Linked DNA regions of Homo sapiens. The protein of the gene in region 2 interacts with the protein of the main gene of each other region in a pairwise test. Each region holds a gene or a part of one and is shown on either strand. Other genes may lie near its edges. The genes, in order: MISP, SOCS7, SORBS3 and YES1.

Region 1 (6,879 bases), on a different chromosome or scaffold from region 2:
CTGAGGCCTGCTCAGGCCCTGGAAGTGAGGCTCTATGGGGTTCCCTGGCCAAGGCGCTGGCCCCCCAATCTCAGGCAGTTGGGGTGAGGCCGTGCCTCTTTGGGGGCTAAAGGTCTTGGGTGGAGGACAGGCCCCTCTGCTGTGCCCCTATGCCCTGTGTGGGCCCAACCAGTGGACAATGGAGTCTGGGGGAGGGGGAACCCCGGGGACATGCCCCCACCCGGGAGGGGCCGGTAACCCCTGGGCTATCTTCTAGACGGGGCGAACCAGGGGTCATTGACCTGCCCCCTGCACAGGGCAGGGACCGAGTGAGCCACTCCTTGTCCCGAGCTCCCGCCCCCACTGGGCCCTCCTTCCTCCTGGTGCTAATTTGGGGACCCCAGGGGCCGCCCCCGGCCTCTTCTCCATCCTGCTTGGACCAGGGTCCTGGGTCTTCCCAACCATACCCCGAGATCAGGCCCCACCTGCCAGCTCTACTGGGCTTGGAGCACGTCCGGGCAGTGGAGGGAGGGACACAGCCTGGGACAGGAAGCCTCTTGGGTTGGAGCAGGAGACCCTCATTTGCCACCCAGACCAATGTGAGCCTGCCCCCAGCCCCCTCTCATTGGAAGTGGCAAGGGGCTTCCCTCCTGGGGGCAGCTACACTCGTCCCCAGAGGCACATTCGTGCACATTCTCACAGACACCGTCTCACACGTTGGCTTTGGACAACCAGGCCCCAACTTGGTCCCTGCCCTAGGGACCTCCAGCCTGGTGCCCAGTGCTCAGGCCACCTCCTGGTCCAGTCACCACCTGCAGCCTCGGCAGGGCAGGTACAGGGGCCACCTCGGATGGGAGCCTGGGTCCCTGCCTCCGCTCTGCCCCTGGGTGGCTGGGAGGAGAGGCCCTCTCGGGGGTGACCTGGGCGTCAGCCGTGGAACCCCCTCCTCCTCCCTGGAGTCTGCCTGAGTCCCTCGAGCCGCGAGCCTTCGCTGAAGTGCCCTTGCTATAACCCCCTCTGCTTCTGGTGTGTGACGAGGCCCCCGATGTTCTTGATTTTCCCAGAGAAGCAAATAAACAGCGTGAACAGCCCCAGTTCCTGGAGTTCTTGCCTTTCAACCTGGCGAGGAAGGCGTGGCCAGGCCAGGGGGTGGGGCCTGCCGGCCTTTGAGCCATTAAAGGGAGGCTGAGCAGGGTTGCGGTGTGCTGGCTTCACCTGCCTGCACCCGCTCACCCTGAGCGCCTTGGGGTGGTGGGAGGCGCTGGAATCCCCACTGTGCAGGTAAGGCCTGGCTGTAAGGGGCTGCTGTGGGGGGGCAGGACTGGCTTCCCGGGGGGCCCTCGGGTTCTGCGGCCGCCCCGTCCTGTCCTTTGTTCCTCCCTTTGCTGGGCTCACAGCCCCTGGGTGATGACAGAGGGTCCCCTGGACACCCACAAGCTCTGTAGAGAAGCCGGCCCCTGGGAAATACACAGGAGGCCTGGGGAGGAGGTGTCTGTAGAGACCAGTGTCATGCTCACGGGAAGGTGCTGCCCCGCCAGCCCCACTCTCTCACGCTGTAGTCTTGGAGAAGTCGCTGCCTCCTCTGGGCCTCAGTTTTCCCATCTGTAAAATAAGCCTTCGTGGCCGGGCACGGTGTTTCACACCTGCAATCCTAGTACTTTGGGAGGCCGAGGTGGGCGGATCACAAGGTCAAGAGATCGATACCATCCTGGCCAACATACTGAAACCCTGTCTCTACTAAAAATACAAAAACTTAGCCGGGCGTGGTGGCTCACGCCTGTAATCCTAGCTATTCAGGAGGCTGAGGCAGGAGAATCGCTTGAACCTGGGAGGCGGAGGCTGCAGTGAGCTGAGATCGTGCCACTGCACTCCAACCTGGGCGACAGAGCGAGACTCTGTCTCAAATAAAATAAAATAGGCCTTCGGAGCCCTGAGTGGGAGGCCAGCCTCAGCCTGGGCGTGGGACGTCTCCACAGTGCCCCCAGCTCATGGGCGATCCAGCCTCCACCCTGCTGGGGCCTCAGTTTTCCCCGATGAGGTGGTGAGTGTGGTGGAGAGCACTGCTGAGGGAACTCAGGTTCCAATTCCAGCCTAAACCCCCGCCATTCCTGAGGCGCGATTTTAAGCTTTCCGTACCTCCGTTTCCCTATCTACAAGCCAGGGAGAAAAGGACGTGAAGGGGGTGGCGGGAGGCGGCGGTGGGAGGCGCCGTGAGGCCGCGCACCCTGAGCTTTCACACACCCAGCAGCGTTAGGTGCCACGCTGTCCTTTGGGGGCCCTTTATCCAGATTTGTCCTTAAACACCCCCATCTTGGCCAGGCGCCGTGGCTCGCGCCTGTAATCCCAGCACTTTGGGAGGCTGAGGCGGGGGCATCACCTGAGGTCAGGAGTTCGAGACCAGCCTGGCTAACGTGGCAAAACCCTGTCTCTACTAAAAATACAAAAATAGCTGGGCGTGGTGGCTCATGCCAGTAATCCCAGCTACTAGGGAAGCTGAGGCAGGAGAATTGCTTGAACAGGGGAGGTTGCCGTGAGCCGAGATCGTGCCACTGCACTCCAGCCTGGGTGACAAGAGCGAGACTCCGTCTCAAAAAAAAAACACAAAAAAAGCACCCCCCTCCTGAGCAGCCCTGCTGGATTCGTAGCTGGGGGCCTTTTTACTCGAAGAAGAGACTGAGGTTCAGAGGGGCTCCACAAGCAGCCCCTCTGGCGTAGGTCAGGACAGAGCCCCAGCCTGGGGAACTGAAGTCCCTGCCCCCTCAGCTGTGTTCCCTGCCCTCATAGACGGCGCTAGGCCCAGTGGCCCGACTTCCCCACAGATGCTGGGCTCCCCACAGTCCCAGCAAGGCCTCTGCACCTTGACTAAGAATCCAGGAGGACCATGGGCGCCTGAGGGCCTCTGCGTCCCCATCTCTCGGGGTGGCCTGGGTCTTTTGACGGCCTCGTGCGGTTCTTTTTTTTTTTTTTTTTTTTTTTTTTTTGAGTTGGAGTTTTGCTCTTGTCGCCCAGGCTGGAGTGCAGTGGTGTGATCTCGGCTCACTGCAACCTCCAACTCCTGGGTTCAAGTGATTCTTCTGCCTCAGCCTCCCAAGTAGCTGGGATTATAATAGCGTGCCACCATACCCCGCTAAATTTTGTATTTTTAGTAGAGACGGGGTTTCGCCATGTTGGCCAGGCTGGTCTCGAACTCCTGGCCTCAAGTGATCCGCCCGCCTCGGCCTCCCAAAGTGCTGGGATTACAGGTGTGAGCCACCAAGTCCGGCCCCCTCGTATGGGTTTTTATGTGGATGGGGCCTAGGGAATTCCTCCCAGCAGCCCTGAGGGAGCCCGGGCGTGATGTTCCCCCACGTCCCGGAGGAGAAAACAGGGCTAAGAGAGGTCAGGTGGGATCAGAACCCAGGCCACACCAAACCCCCCCGAGTCTGCCAAACCTGGTTTATGCAAGAAGGGGGCCATCTAGGGGAGTTGCCCCAAGGGGTGGGCTGGGCCAGAAGGCACGGACGGGATTGGGACTCAGCCCCTCCGGCCCCCCAGGAGACACAGGCCACTGTGCACGCTGAGCTGCTGTGTGGCCCTGGACACCTGCTGACCCTCTCTGAGCGGTGCTGAGAGGCGGTGGGAGGGCCAGGCAGCCAAGGGAGGTTTCGGCTGAGTTCTGGCTCCTCGGGGCCACCTGGAGGCCCTGGGGGTGGAGGGGCAGCCGGCAGCGGGCACGGTGCCCGCCCTTGCCCAGCCTGGTATCCTCTTTCTCCCTCCTCCTCCTCTGGACTTTGTTTCCTGATCCCAGGTGGGGCTGGGGGGAGGGGGCACACCTGCCTCCCCTGGGTGGGGCCTCTGTTCCCTGGCAACCTGGCGGGCAGGGCGGAGCTGGGAGGCCTCTGTGCCCATCGAGGAGTCAGAGTGGAGGCTGCAGACTGTGGAGCCGGGAGCCGGCAGGTGAGGCTGGGGGCGCCCCGGGCCGGGCCGGGCGGGGATCCTGTGTGGGGCGGTTGGATCCACATTTGGCGTGGGAGCGTCATGTGTCTGTGGGCGGGGTCTGCTTGCCTGGCGGCACTTGGGATCCAGGGAGGCCCCCTGCCCCACCCCGTCACCCTCGGAGCCTCCCTGAGGCACCTTTCCCTCTGCCCCCGCTAGGTACTCTGGGGCCTCAAGGGCACCCACTGGGAGAGCAGAGAGGCCCTTGTCCCTGAACTCTGCTGGGGCTTTTGAACCCCAAATCCCAGAGCCCTCCAAGGGAGGGGCCGGGTTGGCACCCCCATGGTCAGAGGCCAGAGGGGCCCCTCCATGGTTCTGGGAATTCCAGAGGCTTCTGGAGAGATGCTTATCCGTCCCACCAGGCCCCTGACTGGGAGGCTCTGGGCAGTAAACACCCCCGTGGGGCTGGGGGCTGGTTTGGGGACACGGAGGAGGGGTGGCTGAGTACAGGCGGAAGGAGTCTCAGGCCGGGGCTGGGGACTTGGCCTGGGTCCTCGGGTGGGGGTGAGGTGGTAGCCTGGGATCCCGGGCAGCCAGCAGGGACTCGGCCCAGCGTCTGCCGGTGGAGCTCCGCCCAGGAGCCCAAGGAGCTGAGATGACTCAAGGGTGACTGCAACCCTGAGGGATGGGAAAAAGGAACGGGGCCCTCCCTTCTGCATGGCCTCCTTGTCTGAGTCTCGGCCCCACAAGGGAACCTTTGCCCCTCACATAGAGCCAACTGGCTGATGAGGAAGGAGGTGTGGCACCAGGGTCCATAAACCCAGTTTCATTCTGGTATCAACAGAGTTCAGGGTGAGGCTGGGAGGAGCAACCCAGGGGGCTTCCTGTAGGAGGGGGTGATTTGGAGCAAAGTCTGAAAACTGGCTTCAGACACTTGCTCTGTCATCGCTGTGTGACCTCAGATGAGCAGGTTCTCCTCTCTGGGTCCCAGCTCCCTCTCTCGAAAACCGGAGTCGAAAACGGTTCCAAGGTGTTGCAGGAAGAGTCTCAGGACGCCGAGGTCCTTAGCCACCGCCGGGCCTTGCAGGGGCCATCTTCCGTCCTGGGGCTCTTCCCCCGAGGGCAGCGCCGCTGCCCAAGAATGCCGGCCATGAGAGCCGCCGTGGATCCAGGGGTTTTTTTGGCCGACACAGTGAAACCCCATCTCTACTAAAAATACAAAACTTAGCCGGGCGTGGTGGCGGGCGCCTGTAGTCCCAGCTACTTGGGAGGCTGAGGCAGGAGAATGGTGTGAATCCGGGAGGCAGAGGTTGCAGTGAATGGAGATCGCGCCACTGCACTCCAGCCTGGGCGACAGAGGGAGACTCTATCTCAAAAAAAAAAGCGGGGGGCGGGGGTGGGCACTGAGGCACAGGCAGCAGGGGAGGGGGCCCAGTGGCCTTGAACCCAAGAGCTGGACCCCAGGCCCCACCCGCTGGCTTCAGTGAATCACTGGGGAGGAATGAGCAGAGGAGGATGCGTGCCTTCATCCCCACCCAACCCCGACCCCACTGGGAGACCCGGCACCTGCTCGAGGCTGGGCGGACAGCTCCCTTTCTCCCGGAGTTGACGTCTGATGTGGGTTATAAATCCCGCTGTGTAAACGTCTGTCCACTCACTGGGCAAACATTCCTACACCCGCCCTCCCCGGGGAGCTCCAGGGTGCAGGGCGTGGACCTGCCCAGCCCTTCAGGGCCAGAAGGCACGGTGGAGCCGGTCTGCATTCCGCAATGAGCCCGACCCCCACGTCTGAGCAGCTGGGATGAGTGGTGTTTGCCCAGCCAGTATTTATTAGGCGCCTGCTGTATACCAGACTCTGGGCTGCAGGAAGGGTGCTGACCTGTGGCCACAGCAGGCGAGAGCGAGGCCTGGGCTGACGGTTTCGGGTGGGAGAAGGCAAGGCCTTCCGTGAGCTGGGCAGGCGGCGTCCACGGAGGAGGAGGCCTCGGGTCAGGGGAGCCATCTGTGCGTCACGCTTTGGGAGGAAGCTCAGCTGTTTGTGTGGGATTTATTCACCAATGCCGCCTGGTTTTCAATGTTTCCCCTATTTTAGTTTCTGACATTTGATACGCGCGGAAGATTGCATGACACATTGCGTGTAGTTTCAACACGGCTCCCCACGGTCTCTCCACTTTATGCTGTTTGATGCCACTTTCCAGTTCAGAGAGGGGCTAAGTTTTTCTTTTTTTTTCTTTTTTTCTTTTTTTTTTTTTTTGAGGCGGAGTCTAGCTCTGTCACCAGGCTGGAGTGCAATGGTGCGATCTCAGCTCCCTGCAAGCTCCACCTCCCGGGTTCACAGCATTCTCCTGCCTCAGCCTCCTGAGTAGCTGGGACTACAGGCGCCCGCCAGCACACCCGGTTAATTTTTTTTGTATTTTTAGTAGAGATGGGGTTTCACCATTTTAGCCAGGATGGTCTCGATCTCCTGACCTCGTGATCCGCCAAAGTGCTGGGATTACAGGTGTGAGCCACTGTGCCTGGCCGACCCTGTCTGTTTAAAAACAAAAAAAAATGCTGCTGGTTGGTGTAAAGGCAGCAGATCTAAATAATAGCCTTGGTGGCCCGGGAGCGACAGTCCTGCTTTGTGGGGGTTTGTTTTTCTTTTGAGACAGGGTCTTTCTCTGTCACCCAGGCTGGAGTGCAATGGCACAATCTCAGCTCACCGCAACCTCCACCTCACAGGTTCAAGTGATTCTCCCACCTCAGCCTCCCAAGTAGCTGGGATTACAGGCCTGAGCCCCTGTGCCCAGCCGACAGTGCTTTTTTTAGGAGTCAGGAGCTCAAGCTTTTGAGATCCCTGTGTCTTCAGGTGAGGCTTCCTTTCCTCAACTATGAAAGATGATGTCTGCTGGACACGGTGGCTCACGCCTGTAATCCCTGCACTTTGGGAGGCCGAGGCAGGCGGATCACCTGAAGTCAGGAGTTCAAGACCAGCCTGGCCAACAT
Region 2 (7,024 bases):
GTTGGGAAACACTTACAGATGCATCACAGGGAGCTGTAGGCGTGTCTGCAGTTATTTCCTTCATTCCATGCTTAGTGGGTTTGGGGTGAGGCTATTTTTATGGTATGGAATGTGTTCTTGACTTTGGATGCTTTATAGTTGGAGGTAAAGGCTGCTTGTTGGTAATTAGGTGGCCTGGGTGGCCCTAGCAGTTATGCAGTGCTTAGTTCAGGGTCATCACATATAAATTAAAACTAGGAATTACAAATTTATGGGCTCACAGTGCATAAAAGACTCTCTAGAAGTCATACAATTTCTGTCTCTGCTTCCAAGGGAGTTCATGGGTTATCTCATAAAAATGATCCATGATTATCTGGTCTATTTTTAAAGACTTTTTTGGGCAAAGGGGATTACATGAGCTCTTGTCTTTTTAGGGGCTTGCAGTTCCTGCAGCTGTTAGACTTCTTTATTGTATCTAATTTAAGTCTGCCCTCTTGCAGCAGGGAACACAGTTGCTAAACTAGGAAGGCTGTAGAATCTCCTTTGGATGATGGGTAACTGCCTTCTCGTTTCGTAGGGAGCTTTTTCAGAGAGGGAGACCTTCTGTTATGTCAGTCACAGGTGAAGCTCCTGCATGAATAAGCTGGAGAAAAGTGGGGCTTTGCCCATGTCTCAGAAACTGAGTACTTCTCATTGGTTGTGACTGAGAAGCCTTTAAAAAAAATCCCAATCTCAAACTCCTTTGGATATCATGTCCCTCAAAAAGGTGATTGGAAGACTTACGATTTGGGAATGGATGCTTCCAGGAAAATGTTAAGCAGGCCAATGAGACTTGCAGCTGGGTAGACTGCTGTGAACTGTCAAAACAAGTGAATTGGTACCTGTATAGGCATCTACTGTAGTGGAGAAGGAGGTCTCTGTTCTTACCCAAGCCCAGAATTAAAAAATCTTATCTTGCGATACCATGTCTTTCTAGTTAATAGTTGTTTCCTCATTAAAGTAAGGAACATGGCTTGGTCACGGTCACGGTGGCTCATGCCTATAATCCCAGCACTTTGGGAGGTTGAAGTGAGCAGATCATCTGAGGTCAGGTGTTTCAGACCAGCCTGGCCAACATGGTGTGAAACCCCGTCTCTACTAAAAATACAAAAAATTAGCTGGGGCATGGTGCCGCACGCCTGTAGTCCAGCTACTCGGGAGGCCGAGGCAGGAGAATCGCTTGAACCCGAGAGGCTGAGGTTGCAGTAAGCAGAGATTTTGCCACTGCACTCCAGCCTGAGCGACTGAGCCTCTGTCTCAAAAAAAAAAAAGGAACACCACCTACATTTGTAGTTTGAGGTTCAGGTCAGCCTCAGCCCTCTTGAATGACGTCCTTTATGTTAAGTGCTCTACCAATAGTCTAGACTGCTCTGGCCTGTCAGGAAATACACTTGTCTGGCTCCATCGCATTGCTCTGGGCAGCCAGGCTTTCAGTTACCAAGCTGTATGGTGAGTCTGGTACCAGCTTTCTAGAACTTCCACTGATGGCTTTTGTTTATTTTTGACACAGGGCCTCACTTTGTCTCCCAGGCTGGAGTGCAATGGTGCAGTCTCAGCTTACTGCAGCCTCGACCTCCTAGGCCCAAACGATCCTCCCACCTCAGCCTCCAGAATAGCTGGGACTATAGGCATGCACCACCATACCTGAATAATTTTTATATTTTTGTAGAGACGGGGTCTTAACGTGTTGCCCAGGCTGGTCTTGAACTCCTGAGTGCAAGTGATTCGCCTACCTTGGCCTCCCAAAGTGTTGGAATTACAGGTGTGACCCACTGCACCTGGTCTCACTGATGACTTTTAGAAGAGCTTTTCTGTTTATCTTAATTAGTATTCAAGAGCTTTGTAAAAAAACTGTGTATTTAGGTTCTGAAAGCCCAGTTTCCTTTGGTAGATATTGGTCACCTCATTTTCTTAACGGGGAAACATTTAAAATACTAGCTGAGGGGCTCATTCAGCCCTGAATTAAAAAAAAAGGTGTTGGAAGGAACACCGTAAGGGCTAAATTAGAGAAATCCTGAGTTCTGACTTGTGCATCAGGCCTGCCAAAATAACCGTATTCCTGGCTATCAGCTTGTGTTCATATTAATAAAATACCTTTCATCCTCTCGTGACTCAAGTGGAGAGGGAATAGACAGAGTTGGGTGGCAAGGAGTATTGTATATGGCAGGGAACAGAACTGCATGACATGCTGGGAAGAAGAGAGGCCATGTGCCTCCTCCCACCAAGTTCCTATGGAGAAGCTGCCTCTTAGATTACCTGACTTTTGTCTGACTGTGAAAGTAGTTAATTTTTAGGACTATAAATTGTACTTTCAGCCTTTGTAGCCTCAGCTGTTAAGAACAGATATCTTATTCAGGTAGATTCTCTTATGTGTGAATACTCTGGAAAATCAAGATATGGACTGCCCTCTAGGAAGAAGTTAGGACTAACATTGGGAACTTTATCTGCATTCAGCTTACCGTACAGTTCTTAGGTTTTCTGGCCCTTGCTTTCCATGTCTGTTTGGGCATATAACAAGCCACTTGGCTTGCTTCCTAAGGCAGAAATTGATACACAATTCTGAAAAAATAAATGGTATGGGTTCTATTGGATAAAGAAGACCCCTTGTTTGAGGGTACGTTGTAAGTCAGTGGCGGAACCAGAATTAGATGGTTTTTCCACTGTCAGTCCCATGGTTTTGTCCTAAAGAATCCTTGACCCTTAACAGGGCAAAGGAATGATAGAATTTAAAAATTGACTTCCTGGTGTTGGGGTGATTTCAGCCCTGGGGGCATTAGGTTTTGAGCTTTCTGAGAGCAGCAGACCCCCAGCCTCGCCTGCTTGCCCTTTGCTTCCCTTTGCTTTCTGCATCAGCTTTGGGCAAGGCGCTTCTGTAACTTGCTTGCTCCATGAATCCCTCAGGTGAAACTGTGTCGCTTGTGGATGTGGACATTTCTCAGCGGGGCCTGACCTCTCCACACCCTCCAACTCCCCCTCCTCCTCCGAGAAGAAGCCTCAGCCTCCTAGGTATAGTTTCTTCCCCTCTCCACCTTCTTGCCTAGTGGGAGGGTGAGCTCCAGGGACTTGTTCTTTGCTGGGGGCCGACCACGCTTCTGGGTTTCCGATGATGACTCAATTATTTCCCAGCTCTTTCTCAGCACCCCGTCATCTCCCTAAGCAATTAAATGGGTCTCACCCGCATGCTGTAATACTTACTATACATATATTAATTCAGTTTACATTTATCTTGCCTTGAACCCACTGCTATTGGGCTGCATTAGGAATATCCTTACTACCCTGCTTTCCAAAAGCAAAACAGAGTAAGATGATTGTTGCCCTCTGTGCAAAAAGACTGGGTGAAGGTTGGGCCATCCTGCCCCAGAGGGCAGCCTGATAGTCCTTCTCCCTCTCCTCTGCCTTCAGCGTGCTCATTCTGTGCTCACATTTCTGAACCTCTTGCTTTTGTTCTCTCTTCTAGATGATATCAGTGGGACGCTGCCTACATCTGTCCTTGTGGCTCCGATGGGGTCTTCCTTGCAGTCTTTCCCCCTACCTCCGCCTCCTCCACCCCATGCCCCAGGTTAGCTTAGTTTAGAGGCAAGACTTGTAAGAGTTGGGAGTACAAAGTGATACTTTCTACCATAGAAGGATGGGAGAAATCTATTTATGGAAATAACAGCTTAGTAGAAAGTTTAAATCTTTTCCCCTTGGCTGGACCAGACTCCTTAGAAATGAGGCGGAGAACTGGTTTTCCTAACCCGTTTTCTTTATGGAGGTCAATCTGATTTTTGTTAGGGATGAAAGACTACTGAATTTTTCATCAGTCTTTGCTGCTGAGACTGTTTTGCAATCCTTGAGTAGATATCACTTAAGAAACTGCCTTAATTTCAGGATAGTGAGGTTTAATATGTTGGTGGTTTTCAGCATTCTATGGTTTTTCTAAGCTTTTAGTATTTACTGCAGCCTTGTAAATAAGTACCAAGCATTTAGCAGCCCATACCTGCTTTGCCAGCTTACAGTACCCAAGGAATAAAATGAATGAAATCAGCATTCTTTTCTACTTGCCTGGCAAAATCATTACTCTTCCTGGGCAAGTAAGCGAGTCACTATTTCCAAGGCTGCCTTATCGGCACTTCACTTCGAGGTGGGAGAAGTTGGAATCGCTCTAGGCTGGTGAAGCCCCTGAAGTAGTCACCTTAGTAAGGTTAGTGAGCAGCTCCCCTCCCCCTTTCTTGGGGTCAAGTGCCCCCACCCATCCTTCACAGCTTACACAAGCCCACACAGCTTTTTGTTCCAGCCCATCCAGCTCTTTGCCACTGCTTTGGCTTCTACCCTTTCCAGCTTAGCTTCTAATGCCTTGCCCTCTTCAGTTAGCATCCTCTGTTTTTGGGGGAGGGTCTATTTGTGGTTGGGAGCAGTGAGGGTAAACAAGTGACCACCACTGTCTTGCCCTGCAGATGCATTTCCCCGGATTGCTCCCATCCGAGCAGCTGAATCCCTGCACAGCCAACCCCCACAGCACCTCCAGTGTCCCCTCTACCGGCCTGACTCGAGCAGCTTTGCAGCCAGCCTTCGAGAGTTGGAGAAGGTAGGTGGTACCTAAGGACTGGCAGGTCACTTCTCCTCCCATTAGCTAAATTCTGTATTCGGACACACCTTTATTTATGTGTTTATTTATTTTTAGAGACAGGGTCTGGCTCTGTTGCCCAGGCTAGGGTGTGGTGGCATAATCATAGCTCACTGTAGGCTCAAACTCCTGGGCCAAAGGATCCTTCTGCCTCAGCCTCCTGAGTAGCTAGGACTGCAGGCATGCACGACCAAGCCCAGCTAAAATTTATTTATATTTTTTGTAGAGACTGGTCTTGCAGTTTCCCAGGCTGGTCTTGAACTCCTGGGCTCAACGTGATCCTCTTGCCTCTGCCTCCCAAAGCTCTAGGATTATAGGCGTAAGCCACCACACCCAGCCCCTGTTTATTGTTTTCAGAGGAAGAATAGTTTACTTGCTTCCATATTTACAGTGACAAAACAGTGTGCTCCTGCTATTAGTTCCATGAGATGTAATAAAATTGAATTTGGGGAAAAAATTTGGACATGATAAAGGTTGTTGGAGAAATGTTTTACATAGTCTAAGCTGATTTTGATAGATTAACTGACCCAGTTCCCTCTTCTTTTCTTGGTAGGGTCTTTGGTAACAAAATTGTAGAATTATTATTCTTTGTTTTTTGTTGTTGTTGTTGTCTTGTTTTGTTTTTGAGACTGAGTTTCGCTCTTGTTGCCCAGGCTGGAGTGCAGTGGCGCAATCTCGGCTTACTGAAAACTCCGCCTCCTGGGTTCAAGCAATTCTCCTGCCTCAGTCTCCTGAGTAGCTGGTATTACAGGCGCCCACCACCATGCCCAGCTAATTACTGTATTTTTAGTAGAAATGGGGTTTCACCATGTTGGCCAGGCTGGTCTTGAACTCCTGACCTCAGGTGAGCCACCTGCCTTGGCCTCCCAAAGTGCTGGGATTACAGGTGTGAACCACTGCGCCCAGCCATTTTGTTTTTTGTTTTTTGTTTTTTTGACACAGAGTCTCACTGTGTAACCCAGGCTGGAGTACAGTGGCGCAATACCAGCTCACTGCAACCTCCACCTCCTGGGTTCAAGCGATTCTTCTGCCTCAGCCTCCTGAATAGCTGGGATTACAGGCATGTGCCACCAAACCCAGCTAATTTTTGTATTTTTAGTAGAGATGGGTTTTCACCATGTTGGCCAGGCTGGTCTCGAACTCCTGACCTCAAGTGATCCACCCGCCTCAGCCTCCCAAAGTGTTGGGATTACAGGCATGAGCCACAGCTCACGGCCAGAATTATTATTCTGTTACTTTGGAGGGCTAAAAGTATAGTGAGCCTGATGTTCATTGCTAATGGTTGAGACACTTGTAAGTGGCTTTTACCTATTGAAATATTTTGGAGAGAATGCAGAGGGTTCTCCCATGTTAAGATAGATTGCACTGAAAACTTTGACATTTCTCTGTCCTGATAACTAGTGGACTGCTTCTTGTCTTTGATAGTGTGGTTGGTATTGGGGGCCAATGAATTGGGAAGATGCAGAGATGAAGCTGAAAGGGAAACCAGATGGTTCTTTCCTGGTACGAGACAGTTCTGATCCTCGTTACATCCTGAGCCTCAGTTTCCGATCACAGGGTATCACCCACCACACTAGAATGGAGCACTACAGAGGTAAGAGATACTGGTAAGAGAGGCTTCTTCCCCCCTTGATTTGCTCTACCTTTGCTGTCTGACTTTTTTGTGGAAGAGATTCATAGGAATGGAACTACAAATAGGGGAAAAATTATCTTAGACTCAGTTGAATATTGATATGAGCGCTGATTTCCGTCACTAGAAGAAATGGAGGGGGTAGGGAAGGGAGAGTAAGGGTTCCATTTAAAAGTCTTGTCAGCAGCATCTTGTTTCCTAAATAGGAGGGCCTGAACAAAACTGTTGGAGAGGCTCCCGAGAAATGAGCCGGTAAAACTCTTTAGGTAAAAGGAAGAAAGAACCTAGGACCATTAGGCAAATTCTCACAAGCTTTGTTTGTAGTTAAACTTATCATCTAGAGATATTTTGTTAAATCACGTATACAAAGAGGGTGAATTTAGTGTTGATCCTGTAACTGTTCTGTTCTGAATTTCTTTCTTTTTTTTTTTTTGAGACAGAGTCTCGCTCTGTTGCCTAGGCTGGAGTGCAGTGGTGCGATCTCAGCTCACTGCAACCTCCGCCTCCTGGGTTCAAGTGATTCTTCTGCCTCAGCCTCCTATGTAGCTGGGATTACAGGCATGTGCCACCAGGCCTGGCTAATTTTTGTATTTTTAGTAGAAACAGTGTTTTATTCTGTTGGCCAGGCTGGTCTCAAACTCCTGACCTCAGGTGATCCACCCGCCTCGGCCTCCCAAAGGGCTTGGATTACAGGTGTGTCTGAATTTCTTTGTCTGATAGTCACTTTCTCCCAGGCAGCATGGTGATAATTTCCTCTTTTTGTCAATGTT
Region 3 (7,024 bases), on a different chromosome or scaffold from region 2:
TCCCTGGAAGAAGAATTTTCCATAGGGATATATGGAGTGGGCATTACTGAAGTGAAGAACTCCAAGAGAAAAGATGGAAGCCAGTCCAATTAGAGAGTTTAAGTTGGACCACAGAAGAAAATGAGGCGTTCCAAGCAGCAAGGGGAACTTGGGGAACTGTTCCAAAACTGAGCATTCACCCTTTTCTCACTGCTGAGAACCGGGTGTCCCTGGGTTCCAGCGTCTCGGTTCTTCCTCCCCATCTACCCCAGCCGGAGCCCAGAATCCTCACGTTCTCTTTGCTTCACTCTGCCCATAAAAATCAAGCAGCCAATAAACCATTTCACACAAAGATAGAAACGACTGGCGGAGTGAAATACTGTATATACTTTGTGAAATTTCAGGACCAAGTGGATCATCGTGTAAGCAAGGGAGGCCTAATGATACCTATCAAAACAAGAGCCTGAATTAAACAACAACCCAACCCATGGGTCAAAGAGGAAGTCACAGACGAGATGAGAAAACAGTCAAGAGTTGATGAAAAATCAAAATGTGTGAGATGCAGTTAAAGCAGCATTCTAGGGAAAAATGTTTCAAATCAATAGTCTAAACTTTCATCCTAAGAAACTTAGAAAAATAACAAATTAAACCAAAAGCAAGCAACAATAAGCAAATAAGAAGCAGAACTCAATGAAATCGAAAACAAAAACGAGAGAAAAACATGAATAAAATCCAAAGATCAAGTAAATTAATAAAGCTCTAGACAGAATAAGAGAAGACGCAAATTGCCAACATCAGGAATGAAAGAGAACATATCAGCCGGGCACAGTGGCTCACGCTTGTAACCCAAGCACTTTGGGAGGCTGAGGCGGGTGGATCACCTGAGGTCAGGAGTTCGAGACCAGCCAGGCCAATGTATAGTGAAACCTCATCTCTACTAAAAAATTACAAAAATTATCTGGGCGTGGTGGCGCATTCCTGTAGTCCCAGCTACTTAGGAAGCTGGGGCAGGAGAATCCCTTGAACCAGGGAGGTGGAGGTTGCAGTGCACCAAGATCCCGCCACTGCACTCCAGCCTGGACAGCAGAGCAAGACTCTGTCTCTCCAAAAAAAAAAAAAAGAAAGAGAAGACATCACTACATATTTTACTGACATGAAAAGGATAGTAAGAGACTATAATGAACACCTTTATGCCAGTAATTTGGATAACTTGACATATTTTAAAAGTCACAAATAGCAAAGATAACCTATCGCCCTTTATCTGTCAAGCCCAGAACCTGTCTCTGGAATCAAAAGACCTGGATTCAGATTCTGGATCTTTTACTTAATAACTTTTCACTGAACCTTGGCATCCCCATCTGTAAAACAGAGATAATCTATCACTCTCTGGGCAGTGAGAGGAACCAGGGCGGTAATACACCTGAAAGAGGTTATGCGTGTATACGTGATTTATAAACTGTCGCACACTTCCCACTCTTGCTAGTTGCCATTAGGATGATTTCCAAAGACAGCTTTAGAAAGACGGATCTGAATGGTGAAAGTCTGGGACACGAATGGTTGAGGAGCTGGCTGCTGGGTCCTCCCCTGGGCTAGGCTCCACCCTCATTTAGCAAACATTTCCTGGGGTCATGCACAGCATTGGGCCAAGCCCTGTGGGGGCCAAGGACAGTTCCGAGACACGCCCCAGCCCCTCACAGTTTTTTGCTTTAGGAAACCCAAGGTTTGCACTAAGTCTCTCCCAACCCCTGCGCCCTCCCAGCCCAGCCCCACTTGCTCTTGTCTCTCCTGCTCACCTCCACATAATTAGCAGGGAAGATGCCCAGGCGGCCGTGGTGCTCTCCCTCCAGCCAGTTCTTGTCCACCTCCTTGTGGATGTAGACAATGTCACCCTTCTGCAGAGTCAGCTCCCTGCAGGTGGGGACGAGGACCGCAGGGTAAGCTGAAGCCTTCCCAAGCCTCCTTCCCTTCAGACCCTGCCCAACACACCCCAGTTCTCTCACCCCTTGGGGATGCCCACTGCAGCCCAGTCCCCCTCCCCATCCCCCTCTGGGATGGCAGAGATTGCCTTGGGTGGAAGGGGAGGGGGAGGAGGGCGCTTACTTGGGGGACTGCGCCTGGAAGTCAAACTTGAGCCTGGCGGCCTTTCTCTAGGCAGGGGAGAGGACAGAGTGGGCTCTCTCAGTTGGGCGGGTGGCAGATCCAGGATGGCAGCCTTGGGACCACTCCAGGTCCCCCACACCTGGTCCCCTCCTTACCTTCTTCTCTTCCCTCCTGGCTGGGCTGCCCCCTCCGTTAGAGGCACTAGGGTCTGTGGAGAAGCACAACCTCAGCTTGGGGAGGCCATACCTGGGGGATGGGGTTGCACCCCCACCTAGGGCAGGCACTGGCAGAAGCAAGGGGCTCTGTGACCTGCCACCCCTGGGGCACCAACATGCCTGGTGGGTGGGCATCTCCGTGAGAAAGAGAGCAGGGCTGGGTCCTTACCTCGGGTTGAGGAAGGGTAGACAAAGTCCCTCCGACCTAGGAAGGGGCTTCCTCCATCAGCCATTTTGTGGGGACTCAGGGACCGGGCGGAACCCAGGTAAGGTGCATGTGGGTAGCTGGAGCTCCAGGCTGAGGCCGGGCTGCACGGGGCACAGAGACTGAGCCTCCAGCCTGGGGCTCCGCACCCCACCCTGGTCACCCCTAGACCGCTCTGACCCCCCATCGCCCCCATCCCTGCCACCTCCTCCCAGGGCGTCTCCCGGGTCCTGGGCTCTCCACAGGATGTCCTACTTCCCGAGTCGCTGCGCGGGGAAGGGTGAGGCCCGGCAGGGCCCAGCGGGAGTGCCTGGGCCGTGGCGGGGCCGCCCTAACCGCGCTGCGCCCCCGGCGGCCGCGACCCCGGTCCTCTGCTAGGAGTTAGCTGCCCTCGGTGGCGCGGGAACGGCGCCCCGCAGAGAGTGGCGCTGCGGTCCCTCCCGGACACGGCTCTGCGGTTCCTTCCTCCCCCGGCTGGGCCCCGCGATCGCCCCCGTCCGCCCCGCCCGGCCGCGCCACGTTCCCTCCCGCCCGGCCTGGGACAGCCCCCTTCCTCCTCCCGCGTCTCCCACTCACCCGGCCGGGGGCCGCTGCTCCGGGGCCCGTCGGGGCGCCGGCGAGCTCTGCGCGGGGAAACGGCGCAATCAGGGCCCGCGACCCCGGGACCCAGCGGCAGCCGAGGCCGCCGCCTCCGGAAAAGTTCGCGGCTCGGGAGGGGAGGAGAGCGGGCGGGACGCGGGGTCCTAGAGGCGCCCGCGCGGCCGATCCCGGGAGCGGGGCGGGAACTAGGGGAAGGGGCGGGGGTCCCCGAGGCTGGGGCCCGGGGGCCGGACGGGGCGGGCGCCCGGTCGTCGGGCTGACGTGGAGTCCGCTTAGAAAGGCTCCTCGGGGTCACTTGCGAAAGTCGACGCCCTGTATTTTATTTATGGAGGAGCGAGCCCGCCAGCGCCCAGGAGGGCCCGAGGCCGGTGCGCGCCGCTGGAGGCCGGACCTCGGCTGCCCGTCCTCCGCCCAGCCCAGCCGCCGAGGCTCCCGGCTCGCCCCGACCCTGCGGTCGCCGGCGTGCCCCGCGGGTGAACCCTGGGGGCTGGTACCTTGGGGGACGGCAGTCGGGTCTCAATTGCCCGCAGGTCCTTGTCCAGCTCGGCGCTCAGCTCGGCCAGCTCTCTCTCCAGCAGCACCTGGGGGCGGGGAGAGGCTGGGCAGTGAGGGGCAGCGCACCGTGGGGGTGGGAGGCAGCGGTCAAAGATCGACTGTGAAAAGCAAGGCCAGCGCACCGGGCCGGCGTAAGGGCAGGCCTCAGCGCACGGGCCGGGCTCCTGCCAGGAGGTGTGGCCCAGGGTGCCAAGAGGGCATCCCCGCCACGGCCTCTCACCTGCCCAGCACGCCCCGGGAGTGCCTACGCGCTTCCTGATCCCGCGATTCCGCAGTCCTGCCAGTTTCTGCCAAGTTGTGTCTCTGTTACAGCACCAATGGGGTTCCCCATTTCCTCTCCCATCTTCTCCCGCCCTCCAAGGCCTGGCTTCACTGTGCCCATCCAGGTTCCCCCGCCACCCCAGGGACCGGAGCCCCCACCCCCACGCTGCTTCCTGCCAGCCTCTGCTATGGGTCTTCGCCGAATCAGGCCCTCGGAGCTTCTCAAGGGTCCAGCTCCACCTCCAAGAATATTTCCTGATAATCCCAGTGCGCACTGACCACTCCCTTTTCTGCTCCTGCTTTGGCCAACACATATTTATTTAACACATGTTTACTGAGCGCCTCCTGTATGCCAGCCACTGTCCTGAGTGCTGGCATTACAGAAATAAACCATGTGGGACTGGAGAGAGAGCTCTTAGTTCGTGGCCTATGCCCATGGTTACTGGGGCCACCAAAACCCTAATCTCCCTGGTTTATCAGGCTGCTGTCCCCAGCACCCTGCAGCACTCACCTCAATGGGCTGGGAGGGCTTCTCACCAGGGTCGTCCACCAGCGGTTTCTTGGGCTGAAGGGTAGAAAGGGTGTGTCAGAGCAGGTGAACTCACTTTCCAAAATGTATCAGCTGAGGGTGCGTGCACACCCCGAGAGCCAGCCAGCACTCACCCTCTGCCCAGTCTCTAGTTCCTGCAGAAACTGGTTCCAGGACTCTTCCGTCCAGACATTGTCTACTTTTTCCCGGCGTCTGAGCACCTGCGTGGAGGTGGGTGGGTGTCAGCTTGTGAAGAGGGCTACTGGGACACTGGCCAGGCTCAAAATGCAGGCTTGCAGGCCCCTGCCCTTCCCCTGGGCCCACGGTGTCCTCCAAGGGATTCAAGCTGAAAGGACATCGTGGCATAGGGTCTTGGCCATACGGCATACAGCTGGGGCTGACCAGGGACTATGCTGGGTGGGCTACCTGATTTGAGGGCTGCAGCACAGTGGAGAATGCTCCAGGTCTGTAGTTGAAGGTGCTTCTAGGTAACTCTTCAGAGTGGTCCCAGCTTCTTCTAAAGAAAGGGAAGGACATCTCTTCAGCTTCCTTTTAGGGAGACTGAGGCAGAAGCCAGCACACAGCCCTCTCACCCTGCCCTTGTCCCTGCTGTGGGGTCTACTCTGCCTCTGACTGCCCTGCCGTTACTCTGGAAGCAAGATTAAACTGTGGAAGTGTGTGAGCTCCAAGCTTAAATTCCAGCTCTACTGTTTAGTGGATGTGTAACCTTTGAACAAGTTACTGATCCCTCAGAGCCTCAGGCTCAGAACCTGTAATATAGAAATGATTTGGTGAGAGAACATATATGAGGTGCCCGGGAGAAGGCCTCACACACATATTTGCTCCAGGTGTGGCCCGACCCTCTCCTGTGGGCCTTTTTGCTAAAGTGTCCTGTATGTGTGTTTGGTCTGGCCCCATGACTGTGGCTATGTGCGTCTGTGCAGCTTTGAAGAAGCTGGTCTTTCTGGGTGCTGTGGCTGAGTGATCGTACACCCATGGGCAAGGAAAGCCAGAGGCAGCTCTGCCCTGCAGCTCTGGCCAAGTTATTTCTGCTCCCTGGGCCTAGTTCCATGAGGGTGCTGGATTCAGTGACTCTGTCTGTGAGACCACCCCAGCCACTGCAGTACAGCATGGACACATCTGCCTTAGCTCCCCTCCAGGGCCCCTTGCTGGCTGGCTTACATGGAATGTTCCAGCCTCTGTTTGAAAGTTTCCACTGAGAGGAACCACTGCATCAGGCTTATCAAATAATACAACGTCTGACCAAGGGTTGGGATTTGTTGGCTGTAATAATGACTCCATTCTGATTTTGGTAATAATAAAAGTGACTGTGAGAATGTCATTCCTAACCTAAGGAAGCAGTAATCATAATTTTTTTTTTTTTTGATACGGAGTCTCGCTCTGTCGCCCAGGCTGGAGTGCAGTGGCGCAATCCCGGCTCACTGCAAGCTCCGCCTCCTGGGTTCATGCCATTCTCCTACCTCAGCCTCCCGAGTAGATGGGACTACAGGCACCCGCCACCGCGCCCGGCTAATTTTTTGTATTGTTTTTAGTAGAGACGGGGTTTCACCATGTTAGCCAGGATGGTCTCGATCTCCTGACCTCGTGATCCGCCCGCCTCAGCCTCCAAAAGTGCTGGGATTACAGGCGTGAGCCACCACACCCAGCCTTGTAATCATAATTAAGCCTGTATATTACTAATGTTTGTGCAGGCTTGCTATGTGCAAAACATGATGCATGATACACACATGATCACACTGAACCCTCTGGGCATTACCACTTAAAAGATGGGGACACAGAGGCTCAGACTGAGTGAGGTACCCACAGTCACATGGCTAGTGGCAGTGCACAGGCTTAAACCCAGAACTCAGCGTCCAAATCTTGAGCCCTTTGCCTCTGAACCTTATCGGTGATGCCCAGAGCTACGGGCCAGTTTCAGCCATGCTAATGAGACGAGTCCTTCCCTGCAAGGGAATAAGAAACTCAAGGATTTAACTCTGAGAGCAAAGATCCTGATTCCCACGGTGGTGCTGACCCCGCCAGGGCCCCAGCAGCCGGGCGGAGCCTGTGGTTTGCACAGAGGAAAGGAATGTCATCCTTATCCCTCCAAGGGGCTCCTCTCTCTGTGCTATCAGGCTGGAACTTGGGTTCTTCCATATCCCTTGTTTTCTCTCAGGTTTCAAAGTGGACAGCGCCAGGTCCAAGTTCCCCTCAACAGTTCTGTCCACGGCTGTCCTGGCCGCCCCACTCCCGGTCTCATAAGACCGGTGGGATCTTTGGGGCAAAGAGTTCCTGCTGCTGACCACAAACGCATCACAGGCGTTCCTGGCCAGGAGCGGGTGCCAGGTCCACTCTTGCCTACCCTTCCCCCCTTGACCCTGTAGGGAAGAGAGTCTATGGGGGTGGTGGAGACCCAGAGATGGGACAGAGCCCAGACGGACACGGAAGTGAGACCCCACTCCTGGCTGGGCTCCGAGGCTGTGCCGGCTGTGGTCACGAGGGGGCGCCCGTCCCATGGTGTCTCGCGGGCCGCGCCCCTCCGCAGCCCTCGGCCCCGCCCCACTGTGCTCACCCACTGGA
Region 4 (7,024 bases), on a different chromosome or scaffold from region 2:
TGTAAGAGTATATTCTAACAGTAATATTTGTGATATTACTATTTAATCAATAAAACTCTTACATTTTCCTGTATTTTGAGCCATGTTCTCTAGCTATTCTTTGTCGTCCAAACCTATCCCAGTCCATTCTTACTGACACTTCTGTATAATTTTTCTGAACCTCATACTTTTCAATTCAAAACACTTAATTTTTTTCCAGATGGTATTTTGGCAAAATGGGGAGAAAAGATGCTGAAAGATTACTTTTGAATCCTGGAAATCAACGAGGTATTTTCTTAGTAAGAGAGAGTGAAACAACTAAAGGTATGAATATTGTTATATTAGTATAAGTATAAAATTTCTTGGGGCAGTATTTTGAGAAAGATATAGTGAAAGTATTTATTTTTCACCCAGGTGCTTATTCCCTTTCTATTCGTGATTGGGATGAGATAAGGGGTGACAATGTGAAACACTACAAAATTAGGAAACTTGACAATGGTGGATACTATATCACAACCAGAGCACAATTTGATACTCTGCAGAAATTGGTGAAACACTACACAGGTATGTGAATATTTCAAAGGTAAAAATTATTTCTTCATATTCTAGTTTATGAGGACAAAATCCATATCCTCATTTCTCTTAAGATTTAACACACTTATTTACACATAATACATGCCCAATAAATGTCTGTTGTATTCTAAAGGGAGGAACAGGTAATACTTAGTACTTGCATTGTGCTACTCAGATAATGTGCTAATAGACTCTCATCATTTGGGTCCTTATATCTTACTGGCATAGTATTTACATTGGAGTTCATTTCACCACATGTACCTTATGAAAATAAACCTAAAAGCAAATATTTATGGGCACTTAGTAAGTAAAACTAAACATTGGGTAACAGAAAAAGCTATGTCAGAAGGATTACCTTCCTCTGCATGGGCTGGATCGCATAAGCTTTCCTAAAGTATAAATCCAGTGAAATTTGGTCTGACGATGCATTTTTCTTATCCTAGAAAATTAACCTATAGCAATTATAGACATTTTTGTCTTTCAAGGACCTCTGAAGGTATTTAATATTAGAATCTTCTGTCTCAAAATTTTTCATTACCAATTTGGCATATGAATGCACCTGAAAGTCTTTACATGATTAATACTAGGAGAGGGGATGTTTCCATGGTAATGTCTTCAATGACAGCTAGCTGCAAACTGAGTCTATCAAGTCAGCCAGCAATCTTGACATTGATCAAGCATGTTACCAAGCAGTGGCATCACTTGTAATTGCCTTTGTCACAATGTGAATTTATGTGGTTATTTTAGTGAGAATAGGAGAGAACATGTCTCATTTATAATAAGAAAGATTGTATAAGCAGAATTCATAAGTCAAGCTGTTATGAATCTAGGGTTCCCTGACTTTGTGTCTCCCTTATTTAAAAAAATCAGTCTCCTGTTAGGCATGTGGATTGTGCCTTTAATCCCAACTACTGATGCAGGAGGATCACTTGAGGCCAGGAGTTCAAGAACAGCCTGGGCAACATAGCAAGACCTCATCTCTTAAAAAAAAAAAAAAAAAAAAAAAAAAGGCCAGGCGTGGTGGCTCACTCCTGTAATCCCACCACTTTGGGAGGCCGAAACAGACAGATCACTTGAGGTCAGGAGTTTGAGACCAGCCTGGGCAACATGGCAAAACCCTATCTATTAAAATATAAAAAAATTTAGCCAGGCGTGGTGGCATGCACCTGTAGGCTCAGCTACTTGGGAGGCTGAGGCAGGAGAATCACTTGAACCTGGGAGGTGGAAGTTGCAGTGAGCTGAGACCACACCACTGCACTCCATCCTGGGCGACAGAGTGAGACTCCATCTCAAAAAAAAAAAAAGAAAAAATCTCCTAAATGATCCTAAATGAACTTTTTCCTTGATTTTTTGGTATGCCTCTTACAAATTAGTGGCTATTAGATAATAACATTTAATGATAACATTCTCTTTGAGAATTAATAAAACCCAGTGTACAAAGGCAGAACTTTGGAAGCAGACAGACCTAGATTTGAATCCCATCTCTACCATTTACTAACTGCAGGGCCTTAGGGGAAAGTTGCGTATGTTTTCAAAGCTTCATTTATATATGAGATACTTGTGAAGTGCTAATTTAGCACAATAGTGGAACATACTAAGTATTTAGTAAATAATAACTTAAAAAAATATATATTTTAAGTTATACTAAGTATTTAGTAAATATACTAACATATCTACTATATATTAGTATATACATACTAAGTAGTAAATACAATATATTTACTATATATTAGTATATACATACTAAGTAGTAAGTAATAACATGTATATATATATATATTTTTTTTTTTTTCGAGTCAGAATCTCACTGTGTCACCCAGGCTAGAGTGCAGTGGCGCAATTTTGGCTCACTGCAACCTCTGCCTCCTGGGTTCATGCGATCCATCTGCCTCAGCTTCCTTAGTAGCTGAGACTACAGGCATGCACCACCATGCCCGGCTAACTTTTGTATTTTTAGTAGAGACAGTGTTTCACTGTATTGGCCAGGCTAGTCTCGAACTCCTGACCTCGTGATTCATCTGCCTCAACCTCCCAAAGTGCTGGGATTACAGACGTGAGACACCTTGCCCGGCCTTAAAAATAAATTTTACAAAATGTTTCACTTATGTATATTTCATGTTTTGCTGCTTATGGACAACTCCCTTTTTGTTTTGTGCTTTTAGAGTAAAACTCGAAAGGACTTCTGTTTTTGTTTTTCTACAGTTTAAACTTAAAACATTGATACACTATATGCCCCTTAATTTTTGTAATTGATATTACAGTATAGTTTATTCATTTATCTAGAACATGCTGATGGTTTATGCCACAAGTTGACAACTGTGTGTCCAACTGTGAAACCTCAGACTCAAGGTCTAGCAAAAGATGCTTGGGAAATCCCTCGAGAATCTTTGCGACTAGAGGTTAAACTAGGACAAGGATGTTTCGGCGAAGTGTGGATGGGTAAGAAGCCTGAATTTTTGTTTTCTGTCATTGTTTAGCTGTGGATTAAAGTGCAACAATTTATGATAAAATATGTTTCAATATTTAAGAGAAGTGCTGTTCACTGAAGTTTGGTCTAAAATCCTTTAAAATATAAATTCCTAAAATGTGTTATTTCTTTAGGAACATGGAATGGAACCACGAAAGTAGCAATCAAAACACTAAAACCAGGTACAATGATGCCAGAAGCTTTCCTTCAAGAAGCTCAGATAATGAAAAAATTAAGACATGATAAACTTGTTCCACTATATGCTGTTGTTTCTGAAGAACCAATTTACATTGTCACTGAATTTATGTCAAAAGGTATGTATTAGTATCTCCTTAGGTATTTGTGTTGATAATGTTTTTAAGAGTCTTGATTTGTATGCATATAGACTTATACTGTTTTCTAATTTAAGATTTTTATGTAGACATATTTGGATAGAAGAAACCTGACACTTTGTTTAATGGAATAGTGATTATCCAGTTATTCCAGAGGATAGTATGACGTTTAAAAGGAAAAGTAGGCAGGCTGAATTAATTTTGAAATTAAGTTTGACTAAAACAAATGGAAAAGCTAGAAAGGTGAAAAATAGAAAGTGTTTGTACACATTTAATTAAAATGATAAAATCAGAAAGATACTTACATTTTTAGTACTAAAGCAAAGAAATAAGGTAAAGTTAAAATGAATTAGTTTTCTCATTTTAATATAAACATAATTCCTATATTCAGGACTTCTAGGAACTTTTTTCCCCACTGCTTTCTTTTTTTTTTTTTTTTTAAATAGAGACTGGGGTCTCAACTATGTTGCCCAGGCTGGTCTTGAACTCCTGGCCTCAGGCAGTCCTCCCTTTTTGGCCTCCCAAAGTGCTGGTATTACCAGCATGAGCCACTGTGCCTGGCCTCCCCACTACCTTCAATGGAAGTTTCTTCATTTTCCTTAACTCTAGACCACAAGATGGGATCTTCAGTAACAGGGTTAGTTAGGGGGAGGATAAAGAGAAGATTGATACTCTTTCCTCTTTTTCCCTGTGCAGATGGTACTTAGAGGAACTAGTAAGTCAGCAGATAAGCTGACAGGCCTGATTTTTATGTGTTTGATTTCATCTGCTTTATTATTATTTTTACTCTTGAACCAATAATATACAGTAGTCACTAATTATGTCACCCTCTCCAGTGGTGTGTCTTGGTCAATGATGTAGTTCCATCTAGTGGTGACAAGGACAACTACAAGTTACATATTTGCTGTAGGAAAATTTTTCCCCTCAAAAGGGGACTGAAACCAAAAGTTAAGAAATTATACAGCCTATTAATTGATAGCCAGAACACACCTAAAGACCCAAAGCACCTGGCGCTCTTTGGAAGGAATGTCTACTGCAAACAGTTGCCAAATATGACATTTTTTTGTTTGTTTGCTTGTTTGTTTGTTGTTTTTGTTTTTTTGTGAGGTGGGGCCTCACTCTATCCCCCAGGGTGGAGTGCAGTCACATTTCTCTGCAGCTTGGACCTCCCTGGGCTCAAGCGATCCTCTCATCTCAGCCTCCTGAGTAGCTGGGATTACAGGTGCATGCCACCACACATAGATAATTTGTGTATTTTTCTACAGATGGGATTTCACCCTGTTTCCCAGGCTAGTTTGGAACTCCTGGGATCAAGCAATCAGCCTGCCTTGGCCTCCCAAAGTGCTGGGATTACAGGTGTGAGCCACCACACCCAGCCCAAATATGCCCTTTCAAAGAGTATATTAGATGAACCAGAGGGGAAGGGAGGGCCAGGCATGGTGGCTGACCTGAGCAACATGGTGAAACCCCATCTCTACAAAAACTAAAAAAATTAGCAGGACGTGGTTGCACACACATGTATTCCCTACTCAGGAGGCTGAGGCATGAGGATTGCTTGAGCCCAGGAGGTTAAGGCCATAGTGAGCTGTGATTGTGCCACTGCACTCCCATCTGGGGTGAAAAAATGAGACTGTCTCAAAAAAGAAAAAAAAAAAAAGGAGAAAAGGACAGGGAAGATGTTTAAATCAAGATATTGGAAGCAGGCCAGGCACAGTGGTTCATGCCTCCAATCCCAGCGCTTTGGGAGGCCGAGGCAGGCAGATCACTTGAGGTCAGGAGTTCGATCCCAGCCTGGCCAACATAGCGAAACCCCGTCTCTGCTAAAAATACAAAAAACAGCTGGGCGTGGTGGCTTGTGCCTGTAGTTCCAGCTGCTCGGGAGGCTGAGGCACGAGAATGGCTTGAGCTAGGGAGGCAGAGGTTGCAGTGAGCCAAGATGACACCGCTGCACTCCAGCCTGGGTGACTGAGTGAGACTCCGTTTCAAATAAATAAAGACTTTAACAATTAAAAAAGATATTGGAACATAAGAAATATAATGAAGGTAAGGCTAATAGCCCATTTAGCTCTGTATATTAATTTTAAGAATTATTTAATTGGGAGAACATGGTAAAATTCTGTGTTGTCAGACCACTGGGTACAATTATTTCCAGGCGGGAGAGATTTAGAATACAAGATAACAAAAGTCCTTTCTATTTTTAAAACTCTTTAATTCCTCATTTTGGTATTCACTTAGCACTTGTCCCTTTATAATCTGTCCAAACTCATTGTCCCATGCACTCCAGCATAAACCCACTGTTCTGCTCTTTGTTTTCATGATTTTTTCATGTTTTCTCTTTGACCTGGAATTTGGTCTCCCTAGCTCTGGACCAGTCCACCAACTACACTTCCCCGATCCAGTTTATGGTCAGGCATTCCATTTAGTTGTCATTTCTATTTAGTCTCCTTTAATCTAGAGCCATTCCTCAACCTTCCTCTGTCTTCCATAGCATTGTTACTTCTGAAGAGAATAGACCACTTTTATGTTTTAAATGTGCCTTAATTTGGTTTTGTGTGATGTTTTCTCTTGATTATAAGCCTTAACAAATAATAGTGAAGCCGTAATCAGACTTCTAGCCTTTTTCTTTGCTGTTATTCATAGTACTTTGTAGTTTTCAGAGAGAGAGCTTGGTCACAGCAGTAGTTCCACAGCGACTCATTTAGCTACCTATATTTAGTTTTAACCACACCCAAGATATTCCTAGTTGTCTGAATTCTTGATTCAGATTTACTTAAAAATATGTAAGTATTTAATACTACTTTTTGAATCAGAATTGGGATATTGATCAAAGCGAGGAAAAAATGCCTCTTGTCAGGTAAAGTTAATGCATTTTCTTTTTTTGCATGTGTTATCAGAAGTTTTCAAAATTTCAGCTTAGAGACCTCTTCTAGGACCTAGATAATTATTTGGAAACTGCAAAACTGCACAAAATTTAAAAAAAATGAAAAGCTAAGAAGTTTTGTGTTGTGATTTGGGGTGGAGGAGTATTCATTTCAATCCTAATATAAGATTTGCTTATTTTTTATGAATATCTTGCTGTCTGTTACAGGAAGCTTATTAGATTTCCTTAAGGAAGGAGATGGAAAGTATTTGAAGCTTCCACAGCTGGTTGATATGGCTGCTCAGGTATCTGTATATATACATGTATCCATTTGAATTAAAAGTGTAAATTAAAATGTGGAATAATCTTACCAGAATATTATAGTATGTGTAGTGAAATGGTGGGATTTTATTTTTATTTTTTATTTTTTAGAGACAGCGTCTCATTCTGTCACCCAGGGTGGAATGCAGTGGTGCACTGATAGCTCCGTGCTTGAAGAGCCTTGAATTCTTGGGCTCTAGCAATCCTCTCGCCTCAGCCTCCTGGGTAGCTAGGACTGCAGGCACAGGCCACCATTCCCAGCTAATTTAAAAAATTATTTTTTTTGTAGACACAGGGATCTCTCTGTGTTGCTTAGGCTAGTCTCAAAGTCCTTGGCTCAAAGGATCCTCCCACCTCAGCCTCCCAAAGTATTGGGATTACCTGGCCAATAATGGAATTTTAGAACTGGCAGGAACGTCAGAGATAATCCAATGTGAGCTCTTAATGATACAGATTAATGAAGTATCAAAAGATGAGAGGTATCTAAAATTC

What was found.
Region 1: the proteins of SOCS7 (region 2) and MISP interact in binary tests that used the Homo sapiens proteins (3 or more experiments, as listed by UniProt).
Region 3: the proteins of SOCS7 (region 2) and SORBS3 interact in binary tests that used the Homo sapiens proteins (3 or more experiments, as listed by UniProt).
Region 4: the proteins of SOCS7 (region 2) and YES1 interact in binary tests that used the Homo sapiens proteins (3 or more experiments, as listed by UniProt).

What each region holds. Positions count from the first base shown.
Region 1 is NC_000019.10:747,257-754,135, forward strand, and holds the start of MISP (mitotic interactor and substrate of PLK1), read left to right. Parts: upstream 1-3,855; 5' UTR 3,856-3,915; intron 3,916-6,879. UniProt on the Homo sapiens protein: Plays a role in mitotic spindle orientation and mitotic progression.
Region 2 is NC_000017.11:38,361,833-38,368,856, forward strand, and holds part of SOCS7 (suppressor of cytokine signaling 7), read left to right. Parts: intron 1-2,919; coding exon 2,920-3,024; intron 3,025-3,475; coding exon 3,476-3,577; intron 3,578-4,009; exon of another isoform or gene 4,010-4,201; intron 4,202-4,454; coding exon 4,455-4,585; intron 4,586-6,049; coding exon 6,050-6,218; intron 6,219-7,024. UniProt on the Homo sapiens protein: Substrate-recognition component of a cullin-5-RING E3 ubiquitin-protein ligase complex (ECS complex, also named CRL5 complex), which mediates the ubiquitination and subsequent proteasomal degradation of target proteins, such as DAB1 and IRS1.
Region 3 is NC_000008.11:22,561,924-22,568,947, reverse strand, and holds part of SORBS3 (vinexin), read right to left. Parts: coding exon 7,017-7,024; intron 4,962-7,016; coding exon 4,871-4,961; intron 4,666-4,870; coding exon 4,579-4,665; intron 4,481-4,578; coding exon 4,427-4,480; intron 4,140-4,426; exon of another isoform or gene 4,075-4,139; intron 3,942-4,074; exon of another isoform or gene 3,875-3,941; intron 3,681-3,874; coding exon 3,594-3,680; intron 3,220-3,593; exon of another isoform or gene 3,123-3,219; coding exon 3,076-3,122; intron 2,960-3,075; exon of another isoform or gene 2,705-2,959; intron 2,604-2,704; coding exon 2,464-2,603; intron 2,288-2,463; coding exon 2,235-2,287; intron 2,127-2,234; coding exon 2,080-2,126; intron 1,888-2,079; coding exon 1,773-1,887; intron 1-1,772. UniProt on the Homo sapiens protein: Vinexin alpha isoform promotes up-regulation of actin stress fiber formation. Vinexin beta isoform plays a role in cell spreading and enhances the activation of JNK/SAPK in response to EGF stimulation by using its third SH3 domain.
Region 4 is NC_000018.10:739,227-746,250, reverse strand, and holds part of YES1 (tyrosine-protein kinase Yes), read left to right. Parts: intron 1-199; coding exon 200-303; intron 304-393; coding exon 394-543; intron 544-2,835; coding exon 2,836-2,991; intron 2,992-3,153; coding exon 3,154-3,333; intron 3,334-6,439; coding exon 6,440-6,516; intron 6,517-7,024. UniProt on the Homo sapiens protein: Non-receptor protein tyrosine kinase that is involved in the regulation of cell growth and survival, apoptosis, cell-cell adhesion, cytoskeleton remodeling, and differentiation.